Homo sapiens: one gene and its partner. The protein of the gene in region 1 interacts with the protein of each later gene in a pairwise test. Each region holds a gene or a part of one and is shown on either strand. Other genes may lie near its edges.

Evidence for each region. The genes of interacting proteins can lie anywhere in the genome.
Region 2: the proteins of CCDC33 (region 1) and PPP2R3C interact in a two-hybrid assay, tested with the Homo sapiens proteins (2 studies listed by BioGRID and IntAct).

Annotation. Positions count from the first base shown.
Region 1 is NC_000015.10:74,274,057-74,282,118, reverse strand, and holds part of CCDC33 (coiled-coil domain-containing protein 33), read right to left. Parts: intron 3,001-8,062; exon of another isoform or gene 2,827-3,000; intron 2,157-2,826; coding exon 2,027-2,156; intron 1,452-2,026; coding exon 1,318-1,451; intron 342-1,317; coding exon 270-341; intron 1-269.
Region 2 is NC_000014.9:35,090,608-35,098,669, reverse strand, and holds part of PPP2R3C (serine/threonine-protein phosphatase 2A regulatory subunit B'' subunit gamma), read left to right. Parts: intron 1-1,905; coding exon 1,906-1,961; intron 1,962-2,036; coding exon 2,037-2,112; intron 2,113-3,485; coding exon 3,486-3,622; intron 3,623-7,462; coding exon 7,463-7,600; intron 7,601-8,062. UniProt on the Homo sapiens protein: May regulate MCM3AP phosphorylation through phosphatase recruitment. May act as a negative regulator of ABCB1 expression and function through the dephosphorylation of ABCB1 by TFPI2/PPP2R3C complex.

The DNA of each region.
Region 1 (8,062 bases):
ACCTCGATCCCAGTGAGCCAGACTTGGCTTGGGCTTGGTCAGAGGCTGACTCCAAGGTCTGGGTGGCCCTCTGCTCACAACTCTCCTCTTCCTAATCCCAGCTCTCTCTACGTTTGTCTGGAGTCTCAAATCACCCTTAGACGTTTCTATCCAAAGTAGTAGTCCCATCCTCCCAGAAGTCCCTGAACAAAGCCAGCAATTGTGAAGGAAGTTGGATCTCACTGACATGTGCCTGCTGGCCCTGACCCTCCCCTGGCCCACAGCCTTACCTCAGAGGAAAGCAGCTGGAAGGAGAGAGCCACTGTGGGGGCCTCATCATTGATAGTTTTCAGGCTGGTGTCCTGGGGAGGAAAAGGGAGCACTCAGACCATGCTGGCCAGGGCAGCTTCCGCCTCTGCCCCACCTACTGTTCTAGATTTCTCTGGAAGGTGTCACCTGCGGGCTGCACCCAGGAGGGTGGGAGGGAGGTGGGAGCTGGCCTCCTGCTTTTGCCCTCGCAAACTGCCTCCACACCACCCCTTCTAAACCCCTCTAGAGACCTGTCTGGCACTACCAGGCTCATCTGACAGAGAGATTCTCATTCATTGAGGTCTATTATGTCAGGATGGCCAGAAGTATTTTAGGGGAAATGGTGGCATAGGAATAGAGAATGATGGTAACGATATTATTCATTCTTGTTGAGAACTTACTCTAAGTGCTTTCCATGGGTTTTCTCATGAAATCTCACAGCAACCCTATGAAAAAAGTGCTATTGCCATGTACCCATTTTATAGGCAAGGAAACTGAGGCATTGACACTTTCAGTAGTTTTCCCATGGTCATGTTAGCTGGTATGTGGTGGAACCAGAATTTGGACCCAGACAGTCTGGCTCTAGAGCCTGAGCTCTGAACTCTCTTGTTATACACAGAGATTGTGTACTTGGCATGCTTCTCCTGTGTTACAGACGAGGACTCTTGTGGTTCAGTAATGTGCCTGAATTTCCACAGTGAGGATTTGAACTGTGGTTCAAATCAGGGTCTGGCTGGCTGAAAGCCTGAACTCTTGCACTGTCTCACAGGGTCACCCTGTACTTGTCTCCCAAGTTGCTCAGGGGCAATTTCTCTGGCTTGGTTCGTCATAGTCCCAGAGGCAAGACTGGCTTCTGGGGTTCCAGGGAGCTCCTCACTTCTAGACTGGGTGACTTCCCTGGTGGGTGCCTTGACAGAAGCTTCTGGAGAAGCCAAATTCTCCTATGGAGGTGTGGTGAGGTGGGGCAGGGTGAGGCAGGGTGGGGCCAGGTGGGCACGCTAGGGGCCCAGTTCAGGGCAGGGGGCTCACCATGATGGGGAGCCGCTCCACGTGAAGCCCGTCCAAGCCTTTCCCTGTCAGCATCTTCTGGTACAAACGGCTCTTTAGCGGCAACACAGAGATGCCCAGGGGCTGGTTGAGGGTCCACGGCTGGCTGCCTTTCACTGTGGGGGAAGGATCAACTAGGGCTCCTGCCAAAGCCCCCACCTCGGCCCCATCCTTTAATACCTGACATCCAGTCCTCCTGTCTCCCGCTGCCTGCTTTCCTGCCTCCTGGCCTTTCCCTGCACATACATCCTCTTCTCATCTTCAGGGCTTTGTGAACTCAAAGCCAACTCTAAACATACTCTGTGTGTCTGGGAATTTATATACATCAGCCTCATCTCTACCCTTTGGGGGCTTCAATCCCACAGTGCAGAAAACTGTGGATCAGCTGGTCTCTGAAGCCCATCTCCCTCACCCCTCTCTGTGAGTTCCGAGGGCTCCAGCCCTCCCCCATCACTGATGGGTGCAATAAAACAAAGCTTGGGGCCAAGACCTAGTATGGGACAGGCCCACGTGTCCTGGCCTGTGGACAAGGAACGCAGCCAGCTCTCCTCTGCCTGCATTAGGAAGCCGCCTGGACACCTGGGAACCATCCATCCCTGTGGGAGGCAGAGGTGGGATGGTCTGAACACCCTTTCATAATACAGATCTCCTGAGGCATGGCTGCCCTGGCGAGGCACCAGGGGTCACGTACTTGAAGTTGAGGAGTAGTACTCCAGCACCAGGGCTGTGTCTTCTGAGAAGCTGGTAGCTCCATCTCGGCCTTGGAAGAGGAAGGACTGATTCCACAGGGGCTGCTCTGGGGGTCCCCCAGGCTTGGACAGCTGGAGGGAGAGGGTAGGAGCAGGTGGTGGGGGCCACAGCTTCTCCCAAATCAAGGCATACACAGATATTTGGTTTTGTGTATCTAGATTTGTCACAAATGTTTCTCCCAACTATAAAAGCAAGCTGGCTGGGCACAGTGGCTCACGCCTGTAATTCCAGCACTTCGGGAGGCCAAGGCAAGTGGATCACTTGAGGTCAGGAGTTCAAGACCAGCCTGGCCAACATGGCAAAACCCTGTCTCTACTAAAAATACAAAAATTAGCTAGGTGTGGTGGGGGACTCCTGTAATCCCAGCTACCCAGGAGGCTGAGGCAGGAGAACTGCTTGAACCCGGGGGGGCAGAGGTTGCCCTGAGATGAGATTGCGCCACTGTACTCCAGCCTGGGTGACAGAGCGAAACTCCGTCTCTAAATAAATAAAATAAATAAATAAATAAATAAACAAATAAATGCAGCACACACCTAATAAATACATTTAGGAAAATGCAGAAAAATAGGAAGAAGAAAAACAGCTCCTGTGTTCCTATGATAAACACAATAATTCATAAAACTGTGCTTCTTCCTAGTTTTTTTCTGTGTATATTTTGTGTATAATCACCATTCTAGCATCCTGCATTTTTCATTTGCCAGTAAAACCTAAGCAGATCCAAAGTCACAGAAAGCTCATTACCCATGACTTGAGTAACTTCAGGATATGAAGTTCATGTCCAAGTGCCCTGATTTCTTCCTTCCCATTTTTCCCTGTAATAACACTGCATTGAACGTTCTCTGCTACATATCTTCATGTCGCAAATTACTTCCTTAGTACAACTACCTAAAATGGAATTGCTGGGTTATAGGACATGTGTATTTTAGGACACCTCATTCATTATTGGTAAACTGTTTTCCTAAAGTGTTGTATCTGTGTTCACACCCATGGCTGGTGGTGTCACAGATGCCAAGTTAGACATGACCTCTGTCTGTGTCACCAGCCCCTCTCTTTCCCACACAGTTTCCCCAGCCCCTTGCAGAGGCCAAGACATCTCTGCAGACTACAGAGGCTCCGTGTGCCCGCAGTGTGGGCCAGTGGGCACTCGGGGGACTTGATGGCACCCTAGGTCAGCAGTTAGGGCACACACATGGGTATGATTTAAACAATGAAACAAGACAGTATTAACTGTAGCACTGCCCAATAAGAGAGCTATATGAAATATTCCCATGGGTGGTCAGAAAAGCCTCCTTAAAGGAAGCAGAACCAGAGAAAGGCTCTGAAGGAAGGTCTGGCTGGGTGAAGAGAGGGATAAAGGTCTTCAGGATGGGAAAACAGCACAATCAAAAATGTGGAGTGGCACTGAGCACACCCTGTGCAGAGGACGCCTGAAATGAGGAGAGACTCCAGGGGGAGGCCCAGCATCTGCCAAGGCCAGAAGGTGGGAGATGGGAGATGGCCATCGGCCCATAACTCCCAGCAGGCAGCCCTGCAGGGTCCCAGCACAGGGCGGGGCTGCGGGTCGTTGCTACAGACCCACCAAGTGGCTGCCTTGCCTCTGTTCCCCAGCCAGGGGCTGTCAGCAACAGTAGCAGCCGCTCCCACCTCCTGCTCCCCCACAGGAATCAGTCATTGCTCGAAAAGGTCAGCACAAATGCACTGCGGCTCCAGGAGTTATTGATGCAGGATCATGAAATATCAGTGTAGGTCCACTTCCCCACAGTGGCAGGGTGCTGATGACGGTCACACTAATGGGCCTGGTTTGTCCAGGCCCAGCCCAAGGCTCAGCTGTGTCTGCCCCTGCCCCTGGGGAGATGGGTTGCAGTCACTGCAGGGCTAGGGTGCCCTGGACACCTGAACAGAGACTGCAATGATGGGAACATCCCACTTCTTATGGGAGCTTGGCCAACAGGTCCGGTGAGAGAAGTTGGTTCTGACTTCTGTGGGGCTTGGGAGTGATCTTTCAAGATTGATCCCCAAACCATGTCCCTCCCAGAGTCACCCCATTCTCCTGGGTGCAGGAGGGTCCACATGGCTGGGACTGTCTGCCAGGCATTGGGGCACCTGTGACTCAGTCCCCTGCCGTCCATACCTTGCTCCTACCCTGGAAGAGGGTTATTTAGTAGACGCTAGCTGCCCTTTCTGGGACCTATTCATGTGTCTAAATGGAGCCTATGAAGCCAGAGGTGGTGAGTGGCTGCCGGCCCAATAAGGAACAGCCCTTTCCCTGAGTAGTTTCCCAGGGCAAGTCACTTAGGAAAGATCACTTCAGACCTAGGACTGGGGAGGGAGGGTCAGCCTGTCTTGTGCATGTGCAGGCAGGAGTGGTGGGAACTCAAAGTTAGAAGACCTGCAGTCTGACGCCAGAGCCCTGGTGAGGGTACTGTGGCTGATGTGTGTGCAGGATGGGGGCGGGGAGAGGCAGGCATCGCCTGCAGATGCTAATGGAAGGGCCACAGCGGTAGTGGAATTATGGAATGTCATTAACCCTCAGCTGTGATCTTCAGAAAAGCCATTAACCCCCAGCCATGGAGGCAGACCTGCTTCCCCTGGGGACAGAGCCTTCATTCCATGGCCCCTCCACGCCCACCGCCTTATTTCCCCTGGGCCCACCCACATCCACCTCTGCCTGCTCTGCCCAGGCATAGTGGCCGCCATCTGGAGGAGTAGCTGCTGGGAGCAGATGCTGGGCTGGGGTCTCTAGGGATCTAGGACCCCTTGGCTCTGGGTCTGGGTCTGCCTCAACCTTGCTGTGTGGCCTTCAAGTCCCTTCTCCTCTTTGGGACCTACTTTTCCCATCATCCCATGGGGATATGCCTCAAACTCCTCACTTTGAAAGCCTGTTGTAAGGTTAAAGGAGACAATGGATGTTTTGCTATTAAGATGTAAGTTCAACTTCACTGAACTCAGCAAATGTTGACTCTGGGGGGCTTCTCCATTCCAGATGCCTGTGGGGTGCTGTAGAGCCAGACTCTGCCCCCGACCCTGTAGCCCACCATCATCCAGGAGGATAGGGGACAGACAGACAGACAGACAGACAGACACACACACACAAACATGTAGAGTCCTAAGCAAGCTGTGGTTGTGGGAGCTGGGGTGTGCGAGGAGAAAGCCATGACTTCTGACCCCATTCCTCAGGGAGGACCTGAAGGACAAGGGCAGTAGGTAAGGAAGAGGAAGGCCATTCCAGACTGCGAGTGCAGCAGAGGTGGAGGCTGGAGGTGGGAAGGGGCAGTGTGGGTGTGGAGAACAGCAAGCTGTCCAGTGGGGCTGCAGAATGCCTGTATGAGCTGGAGCCATAAGCCAGGAGGCTGGAGGGCACAGGGCCTGTGGACCTGGCTGAGAGTGGGATTTGCCTTGTCGTGATAGTAACAGGGGGCCCAGGGGAAGGGCTAGGCAGGGGATGCCCTGGCTGCTCCTCAGAGAATGGATGGCAGGGGCCTGAGGGGAGGCTAGCACTAGGGCAGGGTCTGTGGGGATGGAAGGGGCCCCAGGAGAGCTTGGGGACAGGCCAGCTGTGGGGCTGAGAGAGGAGGGGATGGTGGTGGGCACACATGGCTTCCCGGAGCTCCACTCCAGCTCTGTAGGAGACCAGAACAACAGGAGCAGCCTGTTGGGCAATGGGCCCCTTCCAAGGTGCCGGGGTAGGAGTAACTTACACGGCCCACCCTATGTTGGTTCCAGCAGGCTGGACCAGGTGAAGTCCGACAGGCCATCTACCCCTTAACTCACCAGTTCAGCCTTTGCCATCATCACCAGGCTCCACTGAGGGCCACCTAGCCCACCACCATGCCCCTCCTTGCCTCATCACCAGCAGATGGCCCTTGGGTTCGGGTGGCTCCGCCTCCATAACCTTCCACATTTATACCAGCAAGGCAGAGCCACACCCCTCCTTAGTGATTGGCTCAGGGAAGTGCATGTAACCCAATCCTGGCTAATCAGACAGGAAGGAGGTCTGCTGAGGGATGGCTGGGTAAGGTTGGTTTCCAGTTGCTCTTTAAAACCACCTACAAGAAGAGAGGGTGCTGCTGGGTGCGGTGCCTCAGGCCTGTAATTCCAGCACTTTGGGAGGCCAAGGTGGGCGTATCGCCAGAGGTCGGGAGTTCAAGATCAGCCTGGTTAACATGGTTGAACCCTATCTCTACTAAATATACAAAATTAGCTGGGCATGGTGGCGCTCGCCTGTAATCCCAGATACTCGGGAGGCTGAGGCAGGAGAATTGCTTGAACCCAGGAGGCAGAGGTTGCAGTGTGAGCCAGGATTGCGCCACTGCACTCCAGCCTGGGGGACAGAGACTTGGTCGCAAAAAAAAAAAGAGAGGCTGCCTCTTATCTGCTGGTCTTTCATTCTATTTGGATGAAGTGCCCCCATGAGCCGTTAGCCAGCTGAAGATGGTAATTCGGGGTGTTGGAAAGATCCTGAGACCTCGAGGATGCTTCTGAGCCTGAGCATCCACCAATTCTGGCAGCATTCTATGTCGTGAGTTGATGTGGTGTGTGACAATAAATATCCTTAGTATTTAAGCCGATCCAAGTTGGGGTTTCTGTTACTTGGAGCCAGATGTGAAAAGGGCAGTGGTGAGGCTGGCCTCAGAGGGGACACTGGCACTAGGGGAGGTACAGCTCTGTTAAGAGTGGAACCCATTTACCTTGGACCCTGGGCCTGGACACTTTGCAAAGATTATCCTTTGAGTTCTCCTAACAGATTGGAATCAATGAGTCTGGAGAAAGGAGCAGCTTACCAAAGGTCATGCAGCCAGTAAGTTACAGAGCTGGGGTCAAACCCAGGTCAAACAGTGCTTTTGCACAGTGACAGTTGGTGAGAAATCACAGCCCCCCAAGATGTCAGAGAGGGCAGGCCCTAAAATTACCAAGTCCAATCCCACCCCCTCAAGTGTAGAGATGAGGGGACTGACGCTCAAAGGGAACAGGGCAGGGGTCTGTGTGAAGACTGAGCTCACGCTGCTGACTGGTGCCCCTCCAGGTATGGCTCTGCCCGGGCAATCCCCACCCCTCCTTACCACAGCAGCCTGCTCCTGTTCTCTCACTGCTGCACCTGGGCACCTCTGTGCCAGCTGCCAGCAAATTCCCAACCTGGCCCAGCTGCCATGGGGTTGGGTGATGTTCAACAGGTGTCCTGCCATTGCTGGACCGGGTCCCACACATGCAAAAGGCACTGGGAACAAGTCTCTGTAGTGAGTGGCACCTCTCCTACCCAGACTAGTTAGGCAGCAAAGGCAGCCAGAGAAAGCCTGGGGGTGGGAGGGGGCACACTCATTAAAGCAGGCAGTGCCTCTTGCCCCTTGGGACAGCCTGCTGATTGGTTCTTAATTTTCTGGGCAAATGCAGGGCCATGTGTGAGGTAACTCTAGGGAAATCAGGCAAAGGATTGGTTTGGGTTTGAAGCCTCTGTCCCCAGGGTCCCCCTTTGTCCCACTCCTCCCCACCACCATCACTCTACCCCATGTCTGAGCCTTCTTCAAATGTCTTTGCCTTTAAATGAAGCCTGGGCTCCAAAGGGGTGTCTTGTTCTATTTTTGCTATGCCAGACATAAGCACTGGTGGGCAGACAATAGGAGGGACCTCCAAAAATCCCTCTGTCCCCCAAGGCCCCTAGGAATGTTGGGACCATCGTGTAGGGCAAGCTGGCAGTGAAGCGCAGATCATGAGAAGAGACCAATCTGGCTATTCCCCTGAACCCAGCCATGTTCTGTGCGTGCACCCGCCCCCAACCTCATACTCAAACACACAGCCCTCCTGTCTGCCCTGACATGGGTCATAGCCTGCCTGTCTCCACCTCACACTTGTGCTATTGCTGTGTCCAACCTGTACCAACCCTTCCTCTGTTAAAAATTCAAGACTGCCGGCTGAGTGCAGTGGCTCATGCCTGTAATTCCAGCACTTTGGGAGGCCGAGGTGGACAGGTCACAAGGTCAGG
Region 2 (8,062 bases), on another chromosome or scaffold:
GTCCTTGAAAATTCAGCTATGGGCCTGGCACAGTGGTTCACGCCTGTAATCTCAGCACTCTGGGGGGCTGAGTTGGGTGGACCACTTGAACTCAGGAGTTCAAGATCAGCCTGGGCAACATGGCAAAACTTTTTCTCTACAAAAAAAATACAAAAATTGGCTGGACACGGTGGCTCACACCTGTAATCCCAGCTACTCGAGAGGCTGAGGCAGGAGAATTGCTTGAACCCGGGAGGCAGAGGTGAGCCGAGATCGCGTTATTGCATTCCAGCCTGGGCAACAAGAGGGAAATTCCGTCTCAAAAAAAAAAAAAAAAAAAAAAACTAGCCAGGCGTAGTGACACACGGCTGTAGTCCCAGCTACTTGGGAAGCTGCTGAAGTGGATCACTTGAACCCAGGAGGCAGAGGCTGCAGTGAGCCAAGATCGGGCCACTGCACTTCAGTCTGGGCAACAGAGCCAGACCTTGTGTCCAAAAAAAAAAAAAAAAAATCCAGTTATGAATCCAATCACAGCATATGGTAGCTGACAGTGTTTTTTGAACTCCTCTACTATAAGTACACACATATATACTTTTTCAAATTTTACAAAATAATATCACGTTTTGACTTATGTAGTATGCTAAGCATTTTACATGGATTCATTCATTTTCATCTCATAACCCCATAAGGAAGGTACATTATTGTCCACATTTTATGTGTAAGGCAACTGAGACTTTGCTAGGTTACATATTTAAAAGTGGCATTCAAACTCCAATCTGGGCTAGGTGTGGTGGCTCACACCTGTAATCCCAGCACTTTGGGAGGCTGAGGTGAGAAATCACTGGTGCCTAGGAGTTCAAGACCAGCCCTGGCAAGACAGACCTCTTCTGTACAAAAAAGCAGCAGCAGCCAGGCGCAGTGGCTCACACCTGTAATCCCAGCACGTTGGGAGGCTAAGATGGGTGAATCATCTGAGGTCAGGTGTTCAAGACCAGCCTGGCCAACATAGTGAAACCCCATCTCTACTAAAAATAGAAAAAATTAGCTGGATGTGGTGGTGGGTGCCTGTATTCCCAGCTACTTAGGAGGCTGAGGCAGGAGAATCGCTTGAACCCAGGAGGCAGAGATTGCAGTGAGCTGAAATCACACCATTGCACTCCAGCCTGGGCAACAAGAGCGAAACTCTGTCTCAAAAAAAAAAAAAAAAAGAACAAGAACAAGACAAAACAAACTCTGCTCTTAAACCACACCTGTTTACCTGCGTATTGCTTTCTAGTCCAGAACCTGCCAAAAATAAATGGAGACAGTGTCCCTGTTCGTGTACCAGCAGTACTATATCTATAATCACAACTTTTTTGAAAATCTGACATCAGTATAATTTTAGAATTTACCACTTAGATTTATATAGTTGAGGTATACAAGTAGAGATGTTATTAAATGTTGCCTGTAGGTTTCTCTTTTTTTTTTGCAGGGTGGGGATGGAGTTTTGCTCTTGTTCCCTAGGCTGTAGTACAATGGCTTGATCTCAGCTCACTGCAACCTCTGCCTCCCAGGTTCAAGCGATTCTCCTGCCTCAGCCTCCAGAGTAGCTGGGATTACAGGCGCCCTCCACCACACCCAGCTAATTTTTTGTGTTTTTAGTAGAGATGGGGTTTCACCATGTTGGCCAGGCTGGTCTGGAACTCCTGACCTCAGGTGATCCACCTGCCTCAGCTTCCCAAAGTGCTGGAATTACGCGGTGAGCCACCGCGCCCAGCCGAGATTTCCCTTTTTGTAGCAATATGTAATAAGGACTTTGGAGCATAAGAGCTAGAAGCTTTAAAATATCAATTGTGTGATTGCTCTTGTTAAAAAAATTTTTTTTTAATTAATTGAGTTGCTCTTTTCTTAAAATGAAATTAATTGTGTTTCTTTATGTTCTTAAAGGAAAGATAAAAATTCAAGATATTTTAGCATGCAGCTTCCTAGATGATTTATTGGAGGTAAATGTTTTTAAACTACTTAATTGTATCACTTGACAGTTGCTATCTTCTAATTATGTCTTTGTGTTCCATTAGCTAAGGGATGAGGAACTGTCCAAGGAGAGTCAAGAAACAAATTGGTTTTCTGCTCCTTCTGCCCTAAGAGTTTATGGTATGTTCCTATCATAATGCTAAAATTTGAATTATCCATTCTTCAGGAAATTGGTGTTCAGAGGACAGTTTTATACATACACTGATATACCTTAAGATCAAAATATTTAATTACCTTAAGCTTTAGTATTCTACATTACCAAAATTTACTTGTTTAAATACCGATGTTTTAACTTTTTGGACTCCCCCCAACCTTTTCTTTTTGAAGACAGGGTCTCACTCTGTCACACTGGCTGGAGTGCAGTGACATGATCACGGCTCAGTGCAGCCTTGAAGTCCTAGGCTCAATCCTCTCACCTCAGTGCCCCTACCCCACCCACCCCACCACCCCCAGTACTGGGTCTACAGGCGCCATGCCTGGCTAATTTATTTTATGTTTTTTTAGAGATGGGATCTCACTGTGTTGCCCAGGCTGGTTTCAAACTCCTGGGCTCAAGCAGTCCACCTGCCCTGACCTCCCAAAGTGTTGGGATTATAGGCATGAGGCACTGCACCCAGCAGAACCCTTTTTAAGTTATACACTTCCTTTTCAATAGAACAGAATGTAATTTGATCCTTGTTGACTCAGGAGCATCATTATGAACATTAGCTATTGTCATGCTTTGTTGATAAAATGCTATTCCCAGGGTCTACTGATGGAGCTAATCTACATTATCTTGTTGGGTGGTCTTTTGACTCCTTTGGCTTTTTTTTTTTTTTTTTTTTTTGGAGATAGAGTCTTGCACTGTTACCTGGGCTGGAGTCCAGTGGCATGATCTCGGCTCACTGCAACCTCCACCTCCCAGGTTCAAGTGATTCTCCTTGCCTCAGCCTCCCAAGTACCTGGGATTACAGGCGCTCGCCACCACACCCGGCTAATGTTTTTTTTTTTTGTTTTTTTTTTTAGTAGAGACGGTGTTTCACTATGTTGGCCAGGCTGGTCTGGAACTCCTGACCTCTGATCTGCCCTCCTCAGCCTCCCAAAGTGCTGGGATTACCGGCGTGAGCCACCACGCCCGACCTCCTTTTGGCATTCTTATCTCTACTTTCAAGTGCTAGCATTTCAGTGCTTTTTGTTGGCCTCTACCTCCATTTAATTTAGAAACCTAGGAATGTTTAAAAAGACTGCAAACTGAAAACAAATAATGATGTAAGTGAAACAGCCCAGAGACTATGGCCTTCATGATGGGTTTTTTTGGCTGTTTCTAGCCCAAGGGTTTTTCTGATCAAGATTGCAAAGGTAGCTGATAGTATTACACATAGGCCACTACCCTAATCATAACATGAATAGTTTGAAAATCAAAATATTAACCAAGAAAAAACTTTTTGTTAGTCTATTCTTCTGATTAAAATTTTATTGTGGTCATAAGTGTCTTTATTATTTTTCTTCCCAAGGCCAGTACTTGAATCTTGATAAAGATCACAATGGCATGCTCAGTAAAGAAGAACTCTCACGCTATGGAACAGCTACCATGACCAATGTCTTCTTAGACCGTGTTTTCCAGGAGTGTCTCACTTATGATGGAGAAATGGTAGTAGTTTAAATCTGCTGCTAAGTTTTAAAAGTTTAGGCTCCCAGAGTTTCCACAAACCCTTTTCTTGATGTAATACAGCCCTTTTTTTTTTGAGACAGAGTCTTGCTCTGTCGCCTAGGCTAGAGTGCAGTGGTGTGATCTCCGCTCAATGCAACCTCCACTTCCTAGGTTCAAGTGATTCTCCTGCCTCAGCCTCCGGAGTAGCTGGGATTATGGGTGCATGCCACTGCATCCAGCTAATTTTTGTACTTTTAGGAGAGATGGGGTTTCACCAGGTTGGCCAGGCTGGTCTTGAACTCCTGACCTCAGGTGATCTGCCTCCCAAAGTGCTGGGATTACGAGGCGTGAGCCACCACACTCGGCCCAGCATTATTGATATCACTGTGTAACAGTGTCTTTAAAATGTGTAAACTGATCAAATTACTTGAGATTCAGAGTCTTTGGTCTTAACGTAAATTAAAACATCTGCATTATGGCCTCAGGGCAAATAGAAAAGCTTATTGTTCATTTCATTGTCAGTGCACCTACTGTACAGTAGTGCATTCTAGTTTTTTTTTTTTTTTAAAAAAAAGCTGAGGCCAGGCTTGGTAGCTTATGGTTATAATCCCAGCGCTTTGGGAGGCCAAGGCCACAGAACCACTTAAGGCCAGTCGTTCAAAACTAGCCTGAGCAATACAGCGAGACTGTCTCTACAAAAAATAAAAAAATTACTTGGGCATGGATGGAATGTGCCTGTAGTATAGCTACTCGGGAGGCTGAGGCAGGAGGATTGCTTGACCTGAGGAATTTGAGGCTGCAGTGAGCTATGATGAGGCCACTGCACTCCAGTCTGGGCAGTAGAGTGAGACCATGTCTCTTAAAAGCTGAAACATTAGTAAATTATTCTGGCTATTTTCAGCTAGATAGTTCCGTCATTAAATTACCAGGTCAAATGTAGTAACACATATGCCATGATTTAATTCTGAGAATCAGGTTGTATTAGTCTCTAGAAGTGGCTATATGAACAGCTGAAGATAACATGCACTTGTCTTTTTATTATAACAATGCAAAATACTTGAGAAGGAAAATTCTAAACAGCATTTTAAAATCACCATTTTTGCTGCTAAAAACATGGGTTAAGAATCTGATAACTTTGGGAGGCCGAGGCGGGTGGATCACAAGGTCAGGAGATGGAGACCATCCTGGCTAACACGGTGAAACCCCGTCTCTACTAAAAATACAAAAAATTAGCTGGGTGCGGTGACGGGCACCTGTAGTCCCAGCTACTCCAGAGGCTGAGGCAGAATGGTGTAATGGTGTGAACCCGGGAGGCGGAGCTTGCAGTAAGCCGAGATGGCGCCACTGCACTCCAGCCTGGGCAACTGAGCGAGACTCCATCTCAAAAAAAAAAAGAATCTGATAAATTTCCCAAACCAGTTATGCTTAAAAAATAGTCATATTGTCATGAGAATGGGGGGGTCTTACATTTATCATTTAGCTTCAATAGCAGTTTGCTAAATAACACCATTAGTAACAACAAAAGAAAAGAGGGGAAAAGGCACAGAAAATTTACTTTGTAACTCCCACAGCTGTAAACAATAGACAGTGAGGAGCTTATATTATTAATATAATGATTCCTGATGAATAGAGAAAATCAGGCTACAACTATGGATGAAGTCAGATCACAATCTGCATTCTTTAACTCTTTAGTGCTATTTATGCAGAAAGGAACTTTTCTAAGAATATAAAATTTTTATCTAAGTGAGAACCTCCCAATTACTACTTTTTACCATTAAAAAAAAAATCTGAGTATCCTGTTTTTTTGTTTTGTTTTGTTGTTTTTGTTTTTGTTTTAGATGGAGTCTCCCTCTGTCGCCCAGGCTGGAGTGCAGTGGCGCGATCTCGGCTCACTGCAAGCTCCGCCTCCCGGGTTGACGCCATTCTCCTGCCTCAGCCTCCCGAGTAGCTGGGACTACAGGCGCCCGCCACCATGCCCGGCTAATTTTTTTTTGTATTTTTAGTAGAGACGGAGTTTCACCGTGTTAGCCAGTATGGTCTCGATCTCTTGACCTTCTGATCTGCCCGCCTCGGCCCCCCGAAGTGCGTATCCTGTTTTTATAGGGAAGGCTTTCTGTTCTCTTCATGTCTTTCTGGCCTTTCCATTTTGCCTTTTTATGGATGAGAGCAGTGTCAGCTCACTGTAAAATGTCTGGCAATCTCAAGACAGCTTCTTATTGGAAATCTGAATTAAAAATTTTAAACAATATTTTAAAATAGCAATTTAAATATACTGTTCTGAGACTGGGCACGGTGGCTCACACCTGTAATCCTAGCATTTTGGGAGGCCGAGGTGGGTGGATCACCTGAGGTTGGGAGTTTTGAGACCAGCCTGACCAACTTGGAGAAACCGCTTCTCTACTAAAAATACAAAATTAGCCAGGCGTGGTGGTGCATGCCTGTAATCCCAGATACTCAGGAGGCTGAGGCAGGAGAATGACTTGAACCTGGGAGGCAGAGGTTGTGGTGAGCCAGGATCGCGCCATTGCACTCCAGCCTGGGCAACAAGAGCGAAACTCCATCTCAAAAAAAAAATTATACTGTTCTGTTCATTCCAGATAAAAAATTTGTTTTTCAAAATAACTGCACTGAAATGAAGTTATAAGTTTATAGCTTAGTCATCTGTTTCAAAAGTTTGAAGCAGGATGCAGTAGTTCATCCCTCTAGTCCCAGCACTTTGGGAGGCCGAGGCCAGATGATTGCTTGAGCCCAGGAGTTTGAGACTAGCATGGGTAATACAGGAAAACCCCATCTCTACAAAGAATTTAAAAAATTAGCCAAGTGTGATGGCGTGTACCTGTAGTCTCAGCTGCCTCGGAGGCTGTAGTGGGAAGATTGCTTGAGCCTGGGAGATCAAGGTTGCAGTGAACTATGATCGTACCACTGCACTCCAGCCTGGTTGATAAAGTGAGACCCTGTCTCAAAAACAAGAATAATGAAAGAAAATTATAGTTTAACACAGCAAATCTCTCATAAAAAAATGAACTAGGGCTGGGCACAGTGGTGCATGCCTATAATCCCAGCACTTTGGGAGGCCGGGGCAGGCGGGTCACTTGAGGTCAGGAGTTTGAGACCAGCTTGGGTAACATGGAAAATCCTGTCTCTACTAAAAATATAAAAATTAGCTGGGCATAGTGGTGTGCACCTGTATTCCCAGCTACTTGGGAGGCTGAGACAGGAGAATCGCTTGAACCTGGGAGGCAGAGGTTTCAGTGAGCTGAGATTGCACCACTGCACTCCAGCCTGGGCAATAGAGCAAGACTCCGTCTCAAAAAAATAAATAAATAAAAAAGAACTATGTCCTCAAAACTGTCCTGTGTAGATTATATATAGAATTCCTATGGCTGGGCAGGGTGGCTCACACCTATAATCCCAGCACTTTGGGAGGCTGAGGCGGGCGGATCACCTGAGGTCGGGAGTTCGAGACCAGCTTGACCAACATGGAGAAACCCCATCTCTACTAAAAATACAGAATTAGCCAGGCATGGTGGCACATGCCTGTAATCCCAGCTACTCCGGAGGCTGAGGCAGGAGAATTGCTTGAACCCGGGAGGTGGAGGTTGTGGTGAGCCAAGATTGTGCCATTGCAACTCCAGCCTGGGCAATGAGAGTGAAACTCTGTCTCGAAAAAAATTCCCTAGAAACCAATATTAAGTATATAAATGGATTTCTCATATCATAACTTAGGGAAAAAATTAAATTTGCCACCTTTGATTGCAAAATAGCTTCAAATCATAAGATATTCACTTGAAAGTTAATTTCAACTAAGGCCTCTAATGAACATTATTTTCTGTTCTGTAGGACTATAAGACCTACTTGGACTTTGTCCTTGCATTAGAAAACAGAAAGGAACCTGCAGCTCTACAATATATTTTCAAACTGCTTGATATTGAGAACAAAGGATACCTGAATGTCTTTTCACTTAATTATTTCTTTAGGGTAAGTCTCATTTGCATAAGTGAGTCATTGTTCCTTAAGATATATCATTTTGTTGCTGCCGGTGCAGTGGCTCACGCCTGTAATCCCAGCACTTTGGGAGGCCGAGGCAGGTGGATCACAAGGTCAGGAGATAGAGACCATCCTGGCTAACATGGTGAAACCCCGTCTCTACTAAAAATACAAAAAATTAGCCAGGTGTGGTGGTGGGTGCCTGTAGTACCAGCTATTTGGGAGGCTGAGGCAGGAGAATGGCGTGAACCCGGGAGGCAGAGTTTGCAGTGAGCCGAGATCGTGCCACTGCACTCCAGCCTGGGCGACAGAGCGAGACTCCGTCTCAAAAAAAAAAAAAAAAAAAAAATTGTGAGATGCAGCAAAAGCAGTGGCTAGAGGGAAATTTATAGTATTGAATGCATATACTGGAAAATGTTAAAGATCTAAAATCAGCATCTACTTTAGGAAATT